Homo sapiens: one gene and its partner. The protein of the gene in region 1 binds, or shares a complex with, the protein of each later gene. Each region holds a gene or a part of one and is shown in the gene's direction. Other genes may lie near its edges. The genes, in order: SART1 and PPIH.

The links.
Region 2: SART1 (region 1) and PPIH share a complex: the UniProt entries of both Homo sapiens proteins name them as parts of the U4/U6-U5 tri-snRNP complex.

What each region holds. Positions count from the first base shown.
Region 1 is NC_000011.10:65,975,002-65,978,810, forward strand, and holds part of SART1 (U4/U6.U5 tri-snRNP-associated protein 1), read left to right. Parts: intron 1-1,377; coding exon of another isoform or gene 1,378-1,393; coding exon 1,394-1,567; intron 1,568-1,654; coding exon 1,655-1,765; intron 1,766-2,012; coding exon 2,013-2,100; intron 2,101-2,561; coding exon 2,562-2,652; intron 2,653-2,762; coding exon 2,763-2,898; intron 2,899-3,598; coding exon 3,599-3,688; intron 3,689-3,791; coding exon 3,792-3,809. UniProt on the Homo sapiens protein: Plays a role in mRNA splicing as a component of the U4/U6-U5 tri-snRNP, one of the building blocks of the spliceosome. May also bind to DNA.
Region 2 is NC_000001.11:42,661,204-42,665,012, forward strand, and holds part of PPIH (peptidyl-prolyl cis-trans isomerase H), read left to right. Parts: intron 1-3,659; coding exon 3,660-3,752; intron 3,753-3,809. UniProt on the Homo sapiens protein: PPIase that catalyzes the cis-trans isomerization of proline imidic peptide bonds in oligopeptides and may therefore assist protein folding. Participates in pre-mRNA splicing.

The sequences.
Region 1 (3,809 bases):
TGCACTCCAGCCTGGGCGACAAAGTGAGACTCTGTCTCAAAAAGAAATAAAAATTAAAAGACAAACAAACAAACAAATGTTCCTGGATGTCCTGGAAGACTTTTTTTTTTTTTTTTTTTGGAGACAGGGTATTGCTCTGTTGCCCAGGCTTGAGTGCAGTGGCAAGATCACGGCTCACCATAGCCTCGGCCTCCAGGCTCAAGCAATCCACCCACCCCAGCCTCCCAAGTAGCTGAGACTACAGGCATACACCACCATGCCTGGTTGATCTTTGTGTTTTTTGTAGAGACTGTGCTTCACCTTATTGTCCAGGCTGGTCTCGAACTCCTGGGCTCAAGTGATCCTCCAGCCTCGGCCTCCCAAAGTGCTAGGATTATAGATGTGAGCAACCACCCGGCCCCTGGAAGAATTTTTTTTTTTTTTTTTTTTCGAGACGGGGTTTCACTCTTGCCCACTCTTTTGAGTGCAGTGGTGTGATCTTGGCAGCCTTGATCTCCCAAGCTCAAGCAGTACTCCCACCTCAGCCTCCCCAGTAGCTGGGACTATGGGCGTGTGTGACCACAATGTCTAATTTTTATGTTTTTTGTAGAGATGGGATTTGGGTATGTTGCCCAGGCTGGTCTCGATCTCCGGAACTCAAGCAGTCCACCCGCCTCAGAAGATTTTTTTAAAAAAATGAATGTAATATAAAATGAAAGAGGGGTGCAGAAGTGGACATAGTGACTCGAACCTTCACTGAGGAGTGAGGACTTTGCTGTCTGGGCTGCAGGGTTGAGGGAGAAGTTTTTTAAAGAGGGGAGATGGTAATCATTGTGTGTGGCTGGGCATCTGCGACAGGAGGGAAAGCAGAGGGTGCTGGTGCCCGTGTGGGGGTCGCTGGATTCAGTGCTGGCAGCATGAGTGAGTTCTCTTCCCATGTCACGGAACCTGCTTTCTTGGTGAAGCAGGAAGCGAGAAGCTGGGCTGTGGGAAGTCAAAAGCGTGGGCCACCTCACCACCCTGCGGGTTCTAGAAGTGCTGTCTAGAGTCCTGAAACCGGAGTTTGTCGGGGGAGGGGCAGGTGGCAGGAGGGAGCCTGGAGGAAGGAGTTTGAGGCTGAGGTAGTGTGTGAGGGGCTTTGGAGGGGGATTGGCACAGGCCTGGTCAGGAAGGCCCTGTAGGATGTTGGGTATTCATTCAAAGGGCATCCAAACCCATTGATGGGTTTGGAGCAGAAGAGTGACCCCAGTGAAAGAGGTGCAGAGTGGAGTTAGGCGGCAGATAGCAGCTGGGCCTGCATGGGCTGTGGGCGTGGCCTGTCTGGCTGCTGCCAGGGAGGACCCTTAGGTTCCTGGGTCTCAATGGCATCACCCCAGAAACTGCTGGGTTTGCCCACAGCCGCTCCCTCCCCCAGGTGGTGGAGATTGTGAAGAAGCTGGAGTCTCGCCAGCGGGGCTGGGAGGAGGATGAGGATCCCGAGCGGAAGGGGGCCATCGTGTTCAACGCCACGTCCGAGTTCTGCCGCACCTTGGGGGAGATCCCCACCTACGGGCTGGCTGGCAATCGCGAGGAGCAGGAGGAGCTCATGGTGCGTCTGGGGCGGCCCCGCCCTCTGCTTCCCTCGGCTGGGTGGGCTGGCTGGGGCCTGGGCCGACCCTGGTCTTTTGTGCCCCAGGACTTTGAACGGGATGAGGAGCGCTCAGCCAACGGTGGCTCCGAATCTGACGGGGAGGAGAACATCGGCTGGAGCACGGTGAACCTGGACGAGGAGAAGCAGCAGCAGGATGTGAGGGCCGCGCCGCTGGGGGGTGGGCGTTTGGGGGTGCTCAAGCTGGAGATGAGCACCGGGCTCGGTGTCCAGAGCCTCAGCCTCCTCATCCAGAGTGGGCTCTGCAGACCTCCCAGGGCGATCTGAGGAGTAAATGAGGAAATTAAATGTTGTGGAGGGCTGGTGCCTGGCAGGTGGTGACCAGTGGGTGGGGCTGAGAAGAGCCGGTATGGCCTGCTAACCACCCCCGCCACGTGTCCCGTAGTTCTCTGCTTCCTCCACCACCATCCTGGACGAGGAACCGATCGTGAATAGGGGGCTGGCAGCTGCCCTGCTCCTGTGTCAGAACAAAGGTAGGGAGCTCAGGGCAGCCATGACTTGGGTGGGCTTGGGTGCTGCTGCAGGTGCAGGCAGGGCCCCCTCCGGTCCCCTCTGCTGCCCCTTTCTCTCAGTCCCAATGCTGGAGCCAGCTGTCCGGCCCAGAGCCACTCCTTCCCCTCCACTGTGGCATCTGTCCGTCTGCTCTGCCTTTGAGGCTCCACACCTGCTTGGGGAAGGAGAGGGGAGTTGAAACTGTTCCAGCTGTGGCACAGAGAGCCCTGGTGTTAGGACCCCAGCTCTGCCATTTCCCTGGCCAGTGACCCTTGGCAAGGGGCTCATTTCTGCATCTTTGCTTTGCCTGTAGAACAGGCCTGATGGCTTTCCAGAGGCAAGGAAAGGGAGGTGCCCCCACAGGGCCTGCTCTGCCTTCTCAGGCGGCCCTGGAGCTGTGGCTCTCGAGGGGTTGGGAGTCTCACAACCCCTCCATCCCTAGGGCTGCTGGAGACCACAGTGCAGAAGGTGGCCCGGGTGAAGGCCCCCAACAAGTCGCTGCCCTCAGCCGTGTACTGCATCGAGGATAAGATGTGAGTGTGGTGGGGCCTGTGCAGGGCTGAGGGGCCTGTGCCAGCTTGGAGCTTCGGGACCACAGCAGGCGGCAGCTCCTCACACTAAGGCCTCCTCTGTCTCGGGCCAGGGCCATCGATGACAAGTACAGCCGGAGGGAGGAATACCGAGGCTTCACACAGGACTTCAAGGAGAAGGACGGCTACAAACCCGACGTTAAGATCGAATACGTGGATGAGACGGGCCGGAAACTCACACCCAAGGAGGTGAGCAGGGCCTTTTGCAGGCGGAGGCCCGGCCTGCCACAGGGAGGCCAAGCCCAGGGCCATGCAATGCCCCGGGCCATGCAATGCCCCAGGGTCCTGGCTCCACCAGCCTCTGGCTGGGGGCCTGGTGAATGCCACGGATGGGGAGGGGGCCCTCAGGGCTGAGGAAGGCTGTGCCTCAGTTTGTCTCTAGTGGGCACAGCAGTCTCTTTGCAAGCCTGGCAGGAGGGTCAGACAGGCACTCGGGACCTCTGCCCTCCTGTCCTCACCTGCGTGAGCCCTTCACTGGCTTTCCTGGCCCGCAGGGCCATTCCAGCGTCCAGGCCCTTCCAGCACTCTCGTAGGCCGCCCGACCGTCCTGCCCTACCACTCAGCTGCCCCCTTGCTCTCTGGGGTTTGTCTCCCTGCAGCCCCAGCCCCAGCCCCAGCGTCCAGGCCCAGCCCCTGCGTGGCAGGTCTCCAGGTTCCCCATGCTCTGCCCCCATGGCAGCGCATCCACTAGCCAAGCTGGTCTCCCGGCCTCTGCTGGGGCCCTGCAGGGTGCCAGCGTCTGTGCTCTTTTCCCATCCCCTTCCCACTGCACCCCAGGCCTGGCATTGGGGTCAATCAACACCCGCCCTGTTATTATACACCTTGTGGGCACAGGTGGCTCCGGCCCCACCCAGGGCCCTGCATCTCCTCTCATGCCCCGCGTCCCCAGGCTTTCCGGCAGCTGTCGCACCGCTTCCATGGCAAGGGCTCAGGCAAGATGAAGACAGAGCGGCGGATGAAGAAGCTGGACGAGGAGGCGGTGGGTGCCCTTGGGGATGTGGGGGGCCCTGTGCCTGCCGGGGCAGGGGTGGCTGGTGTGTGGGGCCTGCTGCAGCCCTTTCTGAGTGGCCCCGACCCCTCAGCTCCTGAAGAAGATGAGC
Region 2 (3,809 bases), on another chromosome or scaffold:
CACACTAATTAGTCATATGAAACTTAGTCAGAAATCAGCTGTGGTTTTTGTTTTTTTCTGAATGGAGGTAAGTCTCCTTCTAGTGGGCTAAATGCTTGTTTCATTTTCTCTTTTACTTCTGGGTGTCACAGTGCCTGGAAAGCTGAGTTTTTCATAAGAAGTTGATTTGTGGGCAAGGAATCAGAGCAAGAGAGGTAGATAGTTCTGGAGGAATTTTGCTCTATTCACTGAGAGAGCCCAGTGAAATAGTTCTTTTTTGCTAACCATAGCTTTCTTGTAAGTAGACTGTTTTTGTCCCCCATATGAAGCCTCCCTCCCCACCCCAACCTTGGAGGGTGTGGGATAAACTACATTTTTTCTTTCTTAAACCTGCTTTTGTCCTTACCCCCCACTTCTGAATGGTCTTTCTTTACTCTTATTAATATCATTTGGTTAGTTGTGTTGCTGTTTTCTTGGATCTGGGAGACATGTGTTCTCTTTTATGTGTTTATTTAGTCTGAATCTCATGAGTTTTTAAGACCTCTTTCCTTTCCTATGCAATACAGGGTTGCAGAGTGGCAGGTTTTAGGCCGAATTACGTTTTTACCTATGTTTTGATTCATCTGCATGGTGTTGTATAACTGTGAAATGGCACAAAAAAATCCTAGTTTTTTTTTCTCTTTAAAAAATGGAAAGTGGAAGTATGCTGGGCCTGCATTTCTCACAGTGGCAGTGACAGTGACAATTGGTTGGAATCAAGGAACTGGTCCCTTTGGACATGGCATATCTTTGCCATTTCACCAGTCTCCACAACTGTTTCCCTTATTTACGTTGCCTGCTCCTGTGGGCATTTGTTTGCAGCCCCGGGAAACAGATAATGGTAGTAGGGTTTGTTAGCTGGTAAGAAGGGCTGAGAAGCTATCCTCTGCCTTCTTTCCTTTTTTTTCCCCTAGGCTTCCCTGTTGCCTTACAAGGAGAGGAATAGCTTTTTACTAGTCTTTGCCCCAGGCACATCTGATCACTTGTCGATAACTCTGGGGTTAGACAATAGTTGCTCAGTCTGAAGGCCGAGTTAAAAGCAATTGCTGGTAGGGCTCACATCTGTAATCCCAGTACCTTGGGATGCTGGGAGGATTGCTTGATCCCAGGAGTTTGAGAACAGCTTGGCAACATAGTAAGACCCTGTCTCTACAAAAATAAGAAAAGTTATTTTTTATTTTTTTATTTTTGGTGGTGTGCGCCTGTAGTCCCAGGTACTTGGTAGGCTGAGGTAGGAGGATCCCTTGAGCCCAGGAGGTCAATTCAAGGCTGCAGTGAGCCATGTTCATACCACTGCACTCCAGCCTGGGCGACAGAGCAAGACCTTGTCTAAAGGGAAAAAAAAAAAGCTTGCTTAGAACCTTCCTTGGGGAAGGCAAAATGGAATGAGCAAGAGTCAGAAAAATCAGAATTTGAGACCTTCCAAAGTTTGACCAAGAATATTTGTTTGTTCATTTATTTTTGGTTTTAATAGTATTTATTATTTTGGTTGCAAAAGAAAAGTGCAAAGAAGAAAATAAATCACCAAATGAATTACCCTCATTCTCACCTCACAATATACTATTGGCATTTTGGTTTACAGTTGTCAGTCTTACCTTAGTATGTATATGTGTGTTTATATAATTTTTAACAGACTTAAAATAATCTATATGTTTTACTTTTTTTGTACTTCATAATTGTCCATATTTTCCCTTGTCGTTATGTCTTCTAAAACATGCTTTCTAATAGCCACCTAATATTTCATTATGAATAGACAAGTTATTTGATCAATTCACTATAGTTGAAGATAAGTTGCTTTCTATTGTTTGCTCCAAATTATTAATTTTGTAATTTTCCCTATTGTTTCTGGAGAGCTATAGATAACGTGATTACGGAGAATGGCACGGTAACTGATGTGTCCCTTAGGTTCACTGGGAAATTGGAGATGAACTTGTTTTCTCTCTTCCTTCTGTATTAATATGTATGTGTAGTTAGTTAATGACATATTAGCTTATTTGATTATTTATATAGTACTATATTGTTTGTACAGTGCTTTTTACAGACACTATCTAATTGAATCTTCATGATAACTGTAAAGAGTAGGTAATTTCATCCTCACTTGATAGATGAGGAAATTGAGGCTCACAGATTGGAAGTGACTTTCCCAGCTCTAAGTGATAGATCTGGAACTCAAATTCAGATCTTTTTTTTTTTTAGATGGAGTCTCGCTCTGTCGCCCAGGCTGGGGTGCAGTGGTGCGATCTTGGCTTACTGCAACCTCCACCTCCCGGGTGGGTTCAAGCGATTCTCGTGCCTCAGCCTCCCGAGTAGCTGGGATTACAGGTACCACCACCACACGTGGCTAATTTTTGTATTTTTAGTAGAGATGGGGTCTCACCATGTTGGCCAGGCTGGTCTCAAACTCCTGACTTCAGGTGATCCACCCGCCTCAGCCTCCCAAAGTGATGGGATTACAGGTGTGAGCCACCACACCAGGCCAGGTCTTTCTAATATACAGACTTGATTTTATTTTATAATATTTAGGCAAACAAAGGTTTGAATTTGGACAGTTTTTCTTTATTCTCTGGCTTATATTAATGGTAGTTCTTTTCCAAAAAGGGACCCTTGATTCCTCACTGGGTCAGTGTTTTCCCTTTCTCCCATGTACTCTTTCTCTTTACTAACTGGCGAGGAGAGCTTGATCTTTTTGGCACTCCTCAATATTGCCTTTAAAACTCAGGGATTCTATTTAAGGCACTGCAAATATGGCCTTGGTCAAATTGTTTTATTACCCAGACTTCAGTTTCCTCACATGAAAAATGGGGAAGATGATAATGCTTATTCCTCAAGGTTGCTGGAAGAGCAAGGAGATAATGCAAATAAAGCTAGTTTAAGCAGAAATTGGGAGTTTATAATAAAGGGAGTGTTTCATGGAACTAAAGGAAGAAATAGAACTAGGAACTAGAACCATAGAGAACCAAGGCAGTTCTTTATCTCCGTTTCTCTAGTGCTCGCTACACATCTGTGTTGTGTTCTCTCTCTGTTCTCTAGCCCAGCTTGCAAATGGTAGTCACATCCAGCTTTCAGGTTTACATGTTACAAATTTAGCCTCAAAGAGAGCATCTATCCCACCTCCAGATTCCCAGAGAAGGAACTCTAGTTGGCCCAGAGTGAGTTAGGCATCCTTCCCTAGATCAATCAACTATGACCAGGAGGGTGGTATCATGTTGTACATACAGACTGCCAAGAGCTCACCCACCCTCTTAGATAGTTTAGGGGAATGGGGTGGTAGTCACTTAAGTGGGTACTTTTATGTGACTGAAGGCATGAGAGTCTTCAGGAATGGCAAGGATTGAGTATGTGATCACCTTGTTGCTGTTCCCTACTTTGTCTGCATCTTAATTGATCGTTCTAGAGGCCCAGCTGTGACCTCTTTTATCCAGTCTATAAAATGCTCCAGCCAGTCTTTGTGGGCTGTAGGTACCTTATATAAGGCTTGATCTGATTGCAGGGTGGGGTCAAATAGGTGCAGCTTCCAAGATGACCAACAAGAGTAAGAGTAGACTTTAAAGATGTCATGCTTTAGGTGCGACAGTGTTCTTCCTCCGGTTTCCAGGGACCCAACACTCCAAGTCACTAATACTTCCCTTCTCTCTGCTCAGGGAGATGGTACTGGAGTCGCCAGTATTTACCGGGGGCCATTTGCAGATGAAAATTTTAAACTTAGACACTCAGCTCCAGGCCTGCTTTCCATGGTAAGTGAGGTCCAATCAAGGTTTTGGGTTATAGCCAGCTGGTTCCTGGGCCCCTCT